Linked DNA regions of Homo sapiens. The protein of the gene in region 1 interacts with the protein of each later gene in a pairwise test. Each region holds a gene or a part of one and is shown in the gene's direction. Other genes may lie near its edges. The genes, in order: TSGA10, PIBF1 and ZNF205.

Region 1 (3,650 bases):
TCTGTTTATATGCTGGATTACATTTATTGATTTGCATATGTTGAACCAGCCTTGCATCCCAGGGATGAAGCCCACTTGATGATGGTGGATAAGCTTTTTGATGTGCTGCTGGATTTGGTTTGTGAGTATTTTATTGAGGAGTTTTGCATCAGTGTTCATCAAGGATATTGGTCTAAAATTCTCTTTTTTTGTTGTGTCTCTGCCAGCCTTTGGTATCAGGATGATGCTGGCCTCATAAAATGAGTTAGGGAGGATTCCCTCTTTTTCTATTGATTGGAATAGTTTCAGATGGAATGGTACCAGCTCCTTCTTGTACCTCTGGTAGAATTCGGCTGTGAATCCATCTGGTTCTGGACTTTTTTTGGTTGGTAAGCTATTTATTATTGCCACAGTTTCAGAGCCTGTTATTGGTCTATTCAGAGATTCAACTTCTTCCTGGTTTAGTCTTGAGAGCGTGTATGTGTTGAGGAATTTATCCATTTCTTCTAGATTTTCTAGTTTATTTGCGTAGAGGTGTTTGTAGTATTCTCTGATGGTAGTTTGTATTTCTGTGAGATCGGTGGTGACATCCCCTTTATCATTTTTTATTGCATCTGGATTCCCTCTTTTTCTATTGATTGGAATAGTTTCAGAAGGAATGGTACCAGCTCCTCTTTGTACCTCTGGTAGAATTCGGCTGTGAATCTGTCTAGTCCTGGACTTTTTTTGGTTGGTAAGCTATTAATTATTGCCTCAATTTCAGAGCCTGTTATTGGTCTATTCAGAGATTCAACTTCTTCCTGGTTTAGTCTTGGGAGGGTGTATGTGTCCAGGAATTTATCCATTTCTTCTAGATTTTCTAGTTTATTTGCATAGAGGTGTTTAAAGTATTCTCTGATGGTTGTTTGCATTTCCGTGGGATCAGTGGTGATATCCCCTTTATCATTTTTTATTGCATCTATTTGATTCTTCTCTCTTTTCTTCTTTATTAGTCTTGCTAGTGGTGTGTCAATTTTGTTGATCTTTTCAAAAAACCAGCTCCTGGATTCATTGATTTTTTGAAGGGTTTTTTATGTCTCTATTTCCTTCAGTTCTGCTCTGATCTTAGTTATTTGTCTTCTGCTAGCTTTTGAATGTGTTTGCTCTTGCTTCTATAGTTCTTTTAATTGTGATGTTAAAGTGTCGATTTTAGATCTTTCCTGCTTTCTCTTGTGGGCATTTAATGCTATAAATTTCCCTCTACACACTGCTTTAAATGTGTCCCAGATATTCTGGTATGTTGTGTCTTTGTTCTCATTAGTTTCAAAGAACATCTTTCTGCCTTCATCTCGTTATTTACCCAGCAGTCATTCAGGAGCAGGTTGTTCACTTTCCATGTAGTTGTGCAGTTCTGAGTCAGTTTCTTAATCCTGAGTTCTAATTTGATTGATTGCACTATGGTCAGAGAGACAGTTTGTTATAATTTATGTTCTTTCACATTTGCTAAGGAGTGCTTTACTTCCAACTATGTGGTCAATTTTGGAATAAGTGTGATGTGGTGCTGAGAAGAATGTATATTCTTTTTATTTGGGTTGGAGAGTTCTGTAGATGTCTATTAGGTCCACTTGGTGCAGAGCTGAGTTCAAGTCCTGGATATCCTTGTTAAGTTTCTTTCTCGTTGATCTGTCTAATGTTGACAGTGGGGTGTTAAAGTCCCCCATTATTATTTTGTGGGAGTCTAAGTCTCTTTGTACATCTCTAAGGACTTGCTTTATGAATCTGGGTGCTCCTGTATTGATTGGGTGCATAGATATTTAGGATAGTTAGCTCTTCTTGTTGAATTGATCCCTTTACCATTATGTAATGGCCTTCTTTGTCTCTTTTGATCTTTGTTGGTTTAAAGTCTGTTTTAGGCCAGGCACGGTAGCTTACGCCTATAATCCCAGCACTTTGGGAGGCCGAGGCAGGTGGATCACGAGGTCAGGAGTTCAAGACCAGCCTGGCCAAGATGGTGAAACCCTGTCTCTACTAAAAATACAAAAATTAGCCGGGCATGGTGGCACTTGCCTATAATCTCAGCTACTCAGAAGGCTGAGGCAGAGAATTGCTTGAACCTGGGAGGTGGAGGTTGCAGTGAGCCAAGATCGCACCACTGCACTCCAGCCTGGGCGACAGAGTGAGACTCTTTCTCAAAAAAAAAAAAAAAGTTTGTTTTATCAGAGACTAGGATTGTAACCCCTGCTTTTTGTTGTTGTTGTTTTCCATTTGCTTGTTAGACCTTCCTCCATCCCTTTATTTTGAGCCTATGTGTGTCTCTGCATGTGAGGTGGGTCTCCTGAATACAGCACACTGATGGGTCTTGACTCTTTATCCAATTTGCCAGTCTGTGTCTTTTAATTGGAGTATTTAGCCCATTTACGTTTAAGGTTAATATTGTTATGTGTGAATTTGATCCTGTCATTATGTTGTTAGCTGGTTATTTTGCTCGTTAGTTGATGTAGTTTCTTCTTAGCCTCGATGGTCTTTACAATTTGGCATGTTTTTGCAGTGGCTGGTACCAGTTGTTCCTTTCCATGTTTAGTGCTTCCTTCAGGAGCTCTTTTAGGGCAGGCCTGGTGGTGACAACATCTCTCAGCATCTGTTTGTCTGTAAAGTATTTTATTTCTCCTTCACTTACGAAGCTTAGTTTGGCTGGATATGAAATTCTGGGTTGAAAATTCTTTTCTTTAAGAATGTTGAATATTGGCCCCCACTGTCTTCTGGCTTGTGGAGTTTCTGCCAAGAGATCTGCTGTTAGTCTGATGGGCTTCCCCTTGTGGGTAACCGGACCTTTCTTTCTGGCTGCCCTTAATATTTTCCCTTCATTTCAACTTCGGTGAATCTGACAATTATGTGTCTTGGAGTTGCTCTTCTCGAGGAGTATCTTTGTAGCGTTCTCTGTATTTCCTGAATTTGAATGTCGGCCTGCCTTGCTAGATTGGGGAAGTTCTCCTGGATAATATCCCGCAGAGTGTTTTCCAACTTGGTTCCATTCTCCCCGTCACTTTCAGGTACACCAATCAGATGTAGATATGGTCTTTTCACATAGTCCCATATTTCTTGGAGGCTTTGTTCGTTTCTTTTTATTCTTTTTTCTCTAAACTTCTCTTCTTGCTTCATTTCATTCATTTGATCTTCAATCACTGATACCTTTTCTTCCACTTGATTGAATTGGCTACTGAAGCTTGTGCATGCGTCATGTAGTTTTCGCGCCATGGTTTTTAGCTCCGTCAGGTCATTTAAGGTCTTCTCTATGCTGTTTATTCTAGTTAGCCATTCGTCTAATCTTTTTCCAAGGTTTTTAGCTTCTTTGCGATGGGTTCAAACGTCCTCCTTTAGCTTGGAGAAGTTTGTTATTACTGATCCTCTGAAGTCTACTTCTGTCAACTCGTTAAAGTCATTCTCTGTCCAGTTTTGTTCTGTTGCTGGTGGGGAGCTGTGTTCCTTTGGAGGAGAAGAGACACTCTGATTTTTGGAATTTTCAGCTTTTCTGCTCTGGTTTCTCCCCATCTTTGTGGTTTTAATCTACCTTCGGTCTTTGATGTTGGTGACCTACAGATGGGGTTTTGGTGTGGGTGTCCTTTTTGTTGATGTTGATGCTATTCCTTTCTGTTTGTTAGTTTTCCTTCTAACAGTCAGGACCCTCAGCTGCA
Region 2 (3,650 bases), on another chromosome or scaffold:
TAAGCACTTTACATGTATTACTTGATATATGCTTCACAAGAACTCTGAGGTAGGACACCAGAATAGAGAGGTAAACTAACGTGCACAGAGTCTTACTGCAGGAATTCAGTTTTAGACAGTTGAATTCTGGAGCTTGCCTTCCTAGCCATAACACTATACTCTCTTCCAAAACAGTGACATGATTAATGATGTTTAGAAGGATAAAGCATTCTTCAGAAGAACTAAAGATTCTTGTAGGACTTAGGTCCGAAATGATATATGTGATGATCTTTCGGGAGGTGATAGCGTATCCTCAGCTGTAATCCCATAATAAGTACCATAGTAACATTCCATTCTCATGGAAAACTTCAGCGTAGAACAAGAACATAATACCATACCAAAGCAAAACACACTGAATGTAGTTTTTCCATAATTACTTCTCTCAAATAGCCCTTTGATAGAAATTTGGGGACTAAAATAATCAAAGTTACATTTAGTAGTTTAAAAAGGACAAAATCGTCTTACTCATCTTTGTATCTGTAGTGCCTAATCCGTGACCAGTCACACAGAAATGATCCAGTCAGTATGTGTGGAGTGAACATGACCTCATTTAGCTGGCCAGCTACTTAAGCAGTAATGACTTAACACAGGATGCATTTAACATGCCAGCTTCTGAAGGTGGAGTTGATGATTGGTTGCAAGATTTGATGAGTTCAAAGAAGGAAAATAAGTAGGAATTTAGTCCCGTCTGCTTCCCCTCCCAGCTTCCCATATTTAATCATTTCTTTTTTAGCTTTTATTTAATTCTTATTATATACCTGGCAGTGTTTAAAGTGGTGGAGGTCCAGCGTTGAGCAAGACAAAATCCCCACCCTTAAGATGTTTACACTCTGGTGAGATAAAGAGAAAACTAATGTGATGGTAATGATACAGTGAGATCAGTGCTCTGAAGGAGACAAGCATTTAGATTATATGCAGGTATTCAGGCAGTGGGAACAGGTTAGAAGCAGCATTAGTGGGTTCAGACAATTTCAGATCTCCATTAGGGTTGGAGGGTGAAGTGTGAATGTTAGGAATGGTGAGAAATGGGGCTTGTAGGAAGCAGCACCAGATTGTAAAGAACCTTGTGACCAACTTTAAGGTTTTTACTTCCATTGCTCTTCCCATATCAGCAATGCCTTTCTTAACATGCTACTGACATGGGGAGAGTAGAGGGAAGAACAATGTAAAGATGTGTTTCGAGGGTCACACGATTCCTTTTTTTCTGAGTAACACAATTGGAACTGCATGTTTAATCTCTTCATTAATTATTTTTCATTGTAGATACTGATATCCATATGACTTTTCATCTCTAAACTGTAAAATCCTCAAGAACAGGAAGTGTGTTTTATTCACTTCTGTATCTTCAGCATCTGATAGTAACTCAGTAAATGTTTTTAAAAAGTCATTTAACATTTGTAGTCATTTTATGTTTTAGCCTAGTAACTAAAACATAGTTGTTGTGTTATTTATTTGAAAAACAGTTTAAGTTTTAAACAACTGAGTTTACAGACCACTCTGTGAACTTAAGATTACTTGCCTTTGAATAGGGAAAAATTACTAAATTTAAAAATTGAGGAATTTTTTTTACTGTTTAATTACAAGGACAATCACAGCTTAACAGAAGACTTCAATACAGAATTTGGGCAACTATGTTAAGTGTTTAGTCTGAAATGTGTTATTATTCCTTTGGTTTATAGACATATGAGGAAGATCGAAAAAACTACTCTGAAGTTCAAATTAGATGTCAACGTTTGGCCTTAGAATTAGCAGACACAAAACAGTTAATTCAGCAAGGTGACTACCGTCAAGAGAACTATGATAAAGTCAAGAGGTAAGTAGTTAAAATGGCTGCAGTAGTAGTTCTCTATTTTTAGGGTGCATCAAAGTCACCTGAGTTTTTACCAACAATCAGTTGTTAATTTTACTTTTACCTTATTCTTCTTTGCACAAATGCATGCAGTTTTGGCAGTTTGTTGGGTTTATATTGTATTTTTATATTGGTTGTTTTTGTTTTATTTAGATGTCACTGCTGTCTTAAAATGTAAACAGAGATAGAAACCCAGTAAAATCACACGTGTGTAAATATTTTTTCAGTGTTATTTGATGATTATTTTTATGTAGTGGAATCAATTTAAATACTTAACAGTTTTCCCTGAAGTTTTTTTCAGCTGTTTCTTCCTGACAAAAGACACACACTCTTTCAAAAAAAAAATGACACTTTCTGAAAATATGTTTCCTAATATTTGCTACTTATAGCAAATACCTTTTTTTAACTGGAATATTCTTTTCTGTTGTTTGTTCAGTAATTTAATGAGCTGCTACTTAGCTGTATGTCCCTCAGTACATCTCTTTTCATTCTGAGCCTAAGTTTCATCATTTATGAGATGTTGCTAATACGGATAACTGCACTATATAAACTAAGATCAAATAAATATGAAAGCCTTTAAATATATATGTACTGCATATGTAATATAAATGGAATGACCTTATCTTAATTGTTCACTCCACTTGAAATAATTCTTAAAATGTAGTAGTCAGTGAATATTTGTTAAATGAATGAATGATTTAAATTGTGTAATTTAAATTACAAATTGCATAATACCGTATGTGAATTTGCAAAGATTTGTGGATAGAAGATTGTCATTTCTACTCCCATTATGACTGACACATGGTATTTCTTATGTATATGGCATTATGCCAAAATATGATAATTATTGGAGCTTTAAATCCATGAGAGCTGTGCTCAGTGGGCTCTGGAATAAAGCTGGAGTTCAAAAGAAGCATTTAAAAATGAAGTAGAGGGCATAGTGGCACATGCCTTTAGTCCCAGCTACTTGGGAGATTGAGGTGGGAGGACTGCTTAAGCCCAGGAATTCGAGGCTGCAGTGAACTATGATCATGCCACTGCACTCCAGCCTGGTGGCAGAGTGAAACTTCATCTCTTAAAAATATAAAATAAAAAAGAATAAAAATGAAATAGATTATGATGCTAAGATGATACCAGTTGGTATTTTCATGTCCCCTCTGCCACTATCAGTCTATAGCAATGACAGATACAATATAAAAAGAGAAAACTAAAAAGCACAGTCATCAGAATAATCCATCGGGGCCACGGATGATCATTGAAACAAGATGAGTCATGAGTTGATAATTACTGAATTTGGGTGATGGGAGCATGGGTGTTCATTATATCACCTCTATTTTTACATATGTTTTCATTTACTATAATAAAAACCTAGGAAAGAAAAATATAACCTTGATCAAAAAGCATGATAAGCATCTTTATGGTAGAAATGGAATAGTAAAACAAGAAAGGACTCAAACTATGACCCTTTTTAGTTCACTCAGCAGAATGAATGAGTTTAAAAACATCGGTCATAAAATATAAGATAAACTGGGGAAGAAAAAAAAGCCCTTTTATGCCCCGGGTAAATTCTCACAAATGTACAAAAGGAAACAGGTGTATGGATGTTAATTGTGTCATTATTAAAAGAAATTCAAATGCTTTTCAGTAGCAGAATGGAAAATAAATTGAGATTTACTCTGCAATATAATTTTATGTAGCAGTTAAAATCATTAAATTAGATCTGAATGTATCACTTTTTTTTACTAAAAGTTCCTTATTTTCT
Region 3 (4,113 bases), on another chromosome or scaffold:
AAAAAATTAAACCCTCTGGGCATGATGGCTCACACCTGTAATCCCAGCACTTTGGGAGGTGGGAGGATTGCTTGAGATCAGGAGTTCAAGACCATCCTGGGTAACAAAGCAAGACCCCCATCTCTACAAAAAAATTTAAAAAATTAGCCAGGCATGGTGGCATGCGCCTGTGGCCCCAGCTACTTGGGAGGTTGAGGTGAATTGCTTGAGTCCAGGAGGTTGAGGGTACAGTGAGCTATGATCGTGCCACTGCACTTCAGCCTGGGTAACAGAGCAAGACCCTGTCTCAAATAAGTAAATAAATAAACAAACAAACCCTTAAAAGCCCACACAACATAGCACGAGCTGGTACAGAGGCAGCTGGGCCCATCTTACTGTGTGAAGCTGTGCACCTCAGGGGATTCTGGTGAGCCAAAGACAGTGGCATGGGGACGTTTCCTAGGGAAACTTCCTGGAATCTGATTCCAGGACTGGGCCCCTGGCCCTTTTCCTGACACCCAGCCCCCATGCCTGCCCAAGAGAAATGGTTCCTTCCCCCAGAAAGTAAAGCACAGTCTCTGTCCTCTCTATTTGAGGCCTTACTTCTCAGGGTCTAAAGGGAAATGGTGCCTGAGAGGCAGAATCTGCAGCTGCCAGGCGTGTTTGAGAACTTAGAACCCCATTTATAGCTGGATCACACCCTCTATCCCCAAGCTGAAATGGGCCTGGAAGAATCGGATTAACCAACTTCTTCCCAAGGTGTGGGGCATCCGGATTGGGGGGAGTTCCCAGCCTGTTTCCCAAGTTCACTCTTAGGGAGAGAGTTCTGTGCCAGTCTTGGGGGGACCCAGAGGGCCCTTGACTAGGAGTCCCTAAATGAATTCAGGGTCCCTCAGGAGACAATAACCTTCAGAAACCCCGAGTGCTAAAATAAATGGTCCTGCCCTCTCCACCCTGCAAAATGCCCTTCTTTCTACCTGTGAGGACAACTGCAGTGCTCGCTTTGAAATTTCAAATAACACAATCTTTCCACAAAATGCATCTTCCATTTTTCTGTTTTGGTGGCTCTGCCTTGCTGGCATCATGAACGCGTCCTGGGTAAAGCCATCCTCATGAGCTGGCATTGCGGCTCTGGGAGTCACCTCCCGGCCAAGAGCAGGTGCAACCCAGGCTCGAGACTCCACACCCGGAACCCTCAAAACCGGGAACGCTGTAGGGCTGCGGCTGCATGGGGAATGGGATCTGGGAGGGACTTCCTGTCTTCCCTACTCCCAGTCTCCACCCAACTCCCCCGCCCGCCCCGTGCAGGCTGTGGAGACTCCCTTCCCGGGGGAGGGGGCCCCCACTGCCGCAGGTGCCCCCTCTGCCTCCACCCCGGTGAGAAGGGGGTGCTGGGGAGGGCATCTGGATCCCGAGACCGGCGCAGATGATCAGCTTGCAGGAGGGGATGGGGTCAAAGGTGGAAGGCTTCAAGCTGGCAGGAGAGAAGGGGGCCAGGACCGGGTTTGGGAAGGAGAAGGACATTGTCTGCCAGGACCGAGAGCAGGATGGGCATCCCAGGCCTGGGGCAGGTGGTTGCAGCTGCAGGGGGGCTGCTGAGAGCGGGCAGGTTGATTTCTGAATTCCTGGTGGGCATGGGAGTCAGGTAGGGACACACGGTGTATGTCCTGGGGTCGGGGGACAGCAGGTCCTGGATTACCCTGGCCTTGACGGGCGGGGCCCCACCAGCACCTGTTCTGCAGGATCTCTGCAGAACTTTCTGCTCCTGATGACAGGAAATAGCGATTCCAATTTAGCCTCGGCTTTCCCTGAGCCGGTTACACTGAGATGCGAGGCTCTTGCTTCAGCAATAAAGGGGACAATACAAAATAGCATTCTTTCAAAAATAGGACCCAGAAAACATCACAGAGAGTGGGACCATCGGATAGGATCTGGGAGACTTTCTTTCCGATTGGGACCAGGGAGCGCTGGTACTCGTGGGGATTTTCAGGGCTCTTTGGGGGTGTCCAGGAAGCGAGGGCTGGTTTCTGTCTGCTCTTCTAGGCTCCTGGCCAGAAGCTGGAGGGGGCTTGGCCAAAAAGAGGGAGAAACAACTCAGCTGTTCTTTCTAGCTCTGAAATAGAAAATGTCTGCAGACGGCGGAGGCATCCAGGACACCCAGGACAAGGAGACACCCCCGGAGGTACAGATGGGGCTGGCTGAGGGAGGTGTGCGGTAGAAGAGGCTGGTGCGGAGGAGATTTTCAAGGCACAGAGTCTGGACCCCTGGAAGAGTTAGACTCACTGGGGTGGGGAGATCAAAGAGAAGGTGGCATGCTGGGTAGTACCCTCTGTCTGGAATTTACAGCATAACAGTTTTGCTTTGCTGGTGAATTCTCTAGCCAGTGGCCACAGGAGATGGAAGAGGTCTGGGTGGAGGTCCTATCAGTGAGGTTTTCTTTCTGAGCAGCGCTCAGAGCACACAGGGAAACCTGTTCTCCTTCCCCGTGCTTCTCCACCTGGAACCACAGCTTCTCATCTCTGTGGGTCTGAGCTCCCGGTCCTTTCTCCTTCCTGTACCTGCTACCCGTGTGTGTGTGCGTGCGTGGTTGAGTGTGTGTGTGTAATTACTATTTGTGGGGGACCTGGGTCTCCGGGCTTGGAGTTGGAGGAGTATGAGTCAGCGACAGGCCAGGGGCCAGTCCCTGGCCTCTGGGAACCAGATGTGTCATCTGTAAAATGCAGACCACATGCCTGCCATTTCCACCTGTCTCGCAGGGTCACTGGGAGGCTCTAAGGATAATAGGCATGAGACGCCATCATCTATGGTTTTCATGCCATAGAAGCACAAAGAATTGTTAGCATGGTTCAGTTTCCCATCCACTTCCCGTGTGCCTTGAACACCTTGGGCATGTCAGTAGAGCCCCACATGTTGGCATTCTCTGCTGGCACTGGCTTCTGTCTGGTGCGCACGGCGGGGGGGATTAATGACCAGCGCCACCCTGTGTTTATCCAGGACTTTCCTGAGCTGGCAGCTCCTTCTCCATCATTATCTGCGTGAACCTCATGACCATTCTGTGCAGGGGCAGAGCAGCTGCGTCCTGAAGGCTGCCTGATTGGGGAGGGGTGTCGCTGGGTCTGGCACCCAGGCACTCTGATTCCTGGCCTGAGGTTCTTTCCCTTCAAGACCCAAACACAGACAGGGCGTGGAGGAAGGAGTGTGAGACCCCAGCAGAAGTCCGGCCAGTTCCTGTGCTGTGGATGAGGCCCCACCAGGGCCCTCCCTGACTTTCCCAAAGCTTTTGAGCTATGTGGTCACGGGGCATTGTCTCATCCCCAGCCATGGTGTGTTAGTCTCCCGTGGCTGCTGTAACAAGTTTCCACTCTCTGGGGGGCTGAAAACAACCAGAATTGGCTCTCTCACAGTCCTGGAGGCCTGCAGTCCAAAATCTAGGTGTCAGCAGGGTCACACTCCTTTTGAAAGCTCTAGACTAAGAGGACCCTCCCTTACCTCTTCCAACTCCTTGGGGGCTCCTGGTGTCCTTGGTGTGGGCATCCCTCCAGTCTCTGCTTCCTTCTCTGTGTCTCTGTGTCCTCTCCTATTCTTATAAGGACATAAGTCATTGTTAGATTTTAGGCTCACTCTAAATTCACGATGATTTAATCTCAAGATCTTTAACTTACCTGTATAAAGACCCTTTTCCCCAATAAGGTCCCATTCTGAGGTCCAGGGAGGACACGGATTCTTAGAGGACACTATTCAAGCCACTACACTTGGTTTCTTCATACACTAATAGACAGCAGTCTACACTGCTGAGGTCAGTGTGAGGCTGGAGCTGAGAAGGGGTAGCTGCCCTTGGGCACCACGCCCACCGGCACTGTGGAGGCGGCTTGGTGAATATTCCTCCTCTTGCCGCCCGTCCTTGCTGGGGTGAGCTGGATGAATGCAGCAAGGACAGTCCTTCAAGCTGCGTCTTGCATGTTGGTTTCCGACGCTGCCGGAGCGCACTGCCATGTGGCCCTGGGTGTCTCTCCCACTCATCTGGGTGCTGATGGGGCTGTCCTTTCTAGGTTCCAGATCGTGGACATCCTCATCAGGAAATGCCTTCTAAGCTGGGGGAGGCGGTACCTTCAGGGGACACTCAGGAGTCACTGC

What was found.
Region 2: the proteins of TSGA10 (region 1) and PIBF1 interact in a two-hybrid assay, tested with the Homo sapiens proteins (one large-scale study listed by BioGRID).
Region 3: the proteins of TSGA10 (region 1) and ZNF205 interact in binary tests that used the Homo sapiens proteins (3 or more experiments, as listed by UniProt).

Annotation. Positions count from the first base shown.
Region 1 is NC_000002.12:99,001,377-99,005,026, reverse strand, and holds part of TSGA10 (testis-specific gene 10 protein), read left to right. Parts: intron 1-3,650. UniProt on the Homo sapiens protein: Plays a role in spermatogenesis. When overexpressed, prevents nuclear localization of HIF1A.
Region 2 is NC_000013.11:72,820,131-72,823,780, forward strand, and holds part of PIBF1 (progesterone-induced-blocking factor 1), read left to right. Parts: intron 1-1,718; coding exon 1,719-1,852; intron 1,853-3,650.
Region 3 is NC_000016.10:3,111,327-3,115,439, forward strand, and holds the start of ZNF205 (transcriptional repressor RHIT), read left to right. Parts: upstream 1-1,259; 5' UTR 1,260-1,356; exon of another isoform or gene 1,357-1,624; intron 1,625-2,022; exon of another isoform or gene 2,023-2,090; 5' UTR 2,091-2,104; coding exon 2,105-2,161; intron 2,162-3,468; exon of another isoform or gene 3,469-3,561; intron 3,562-3,641; exon of another isoform or gene 3,642-4,028; coding exon 4,029-4,113.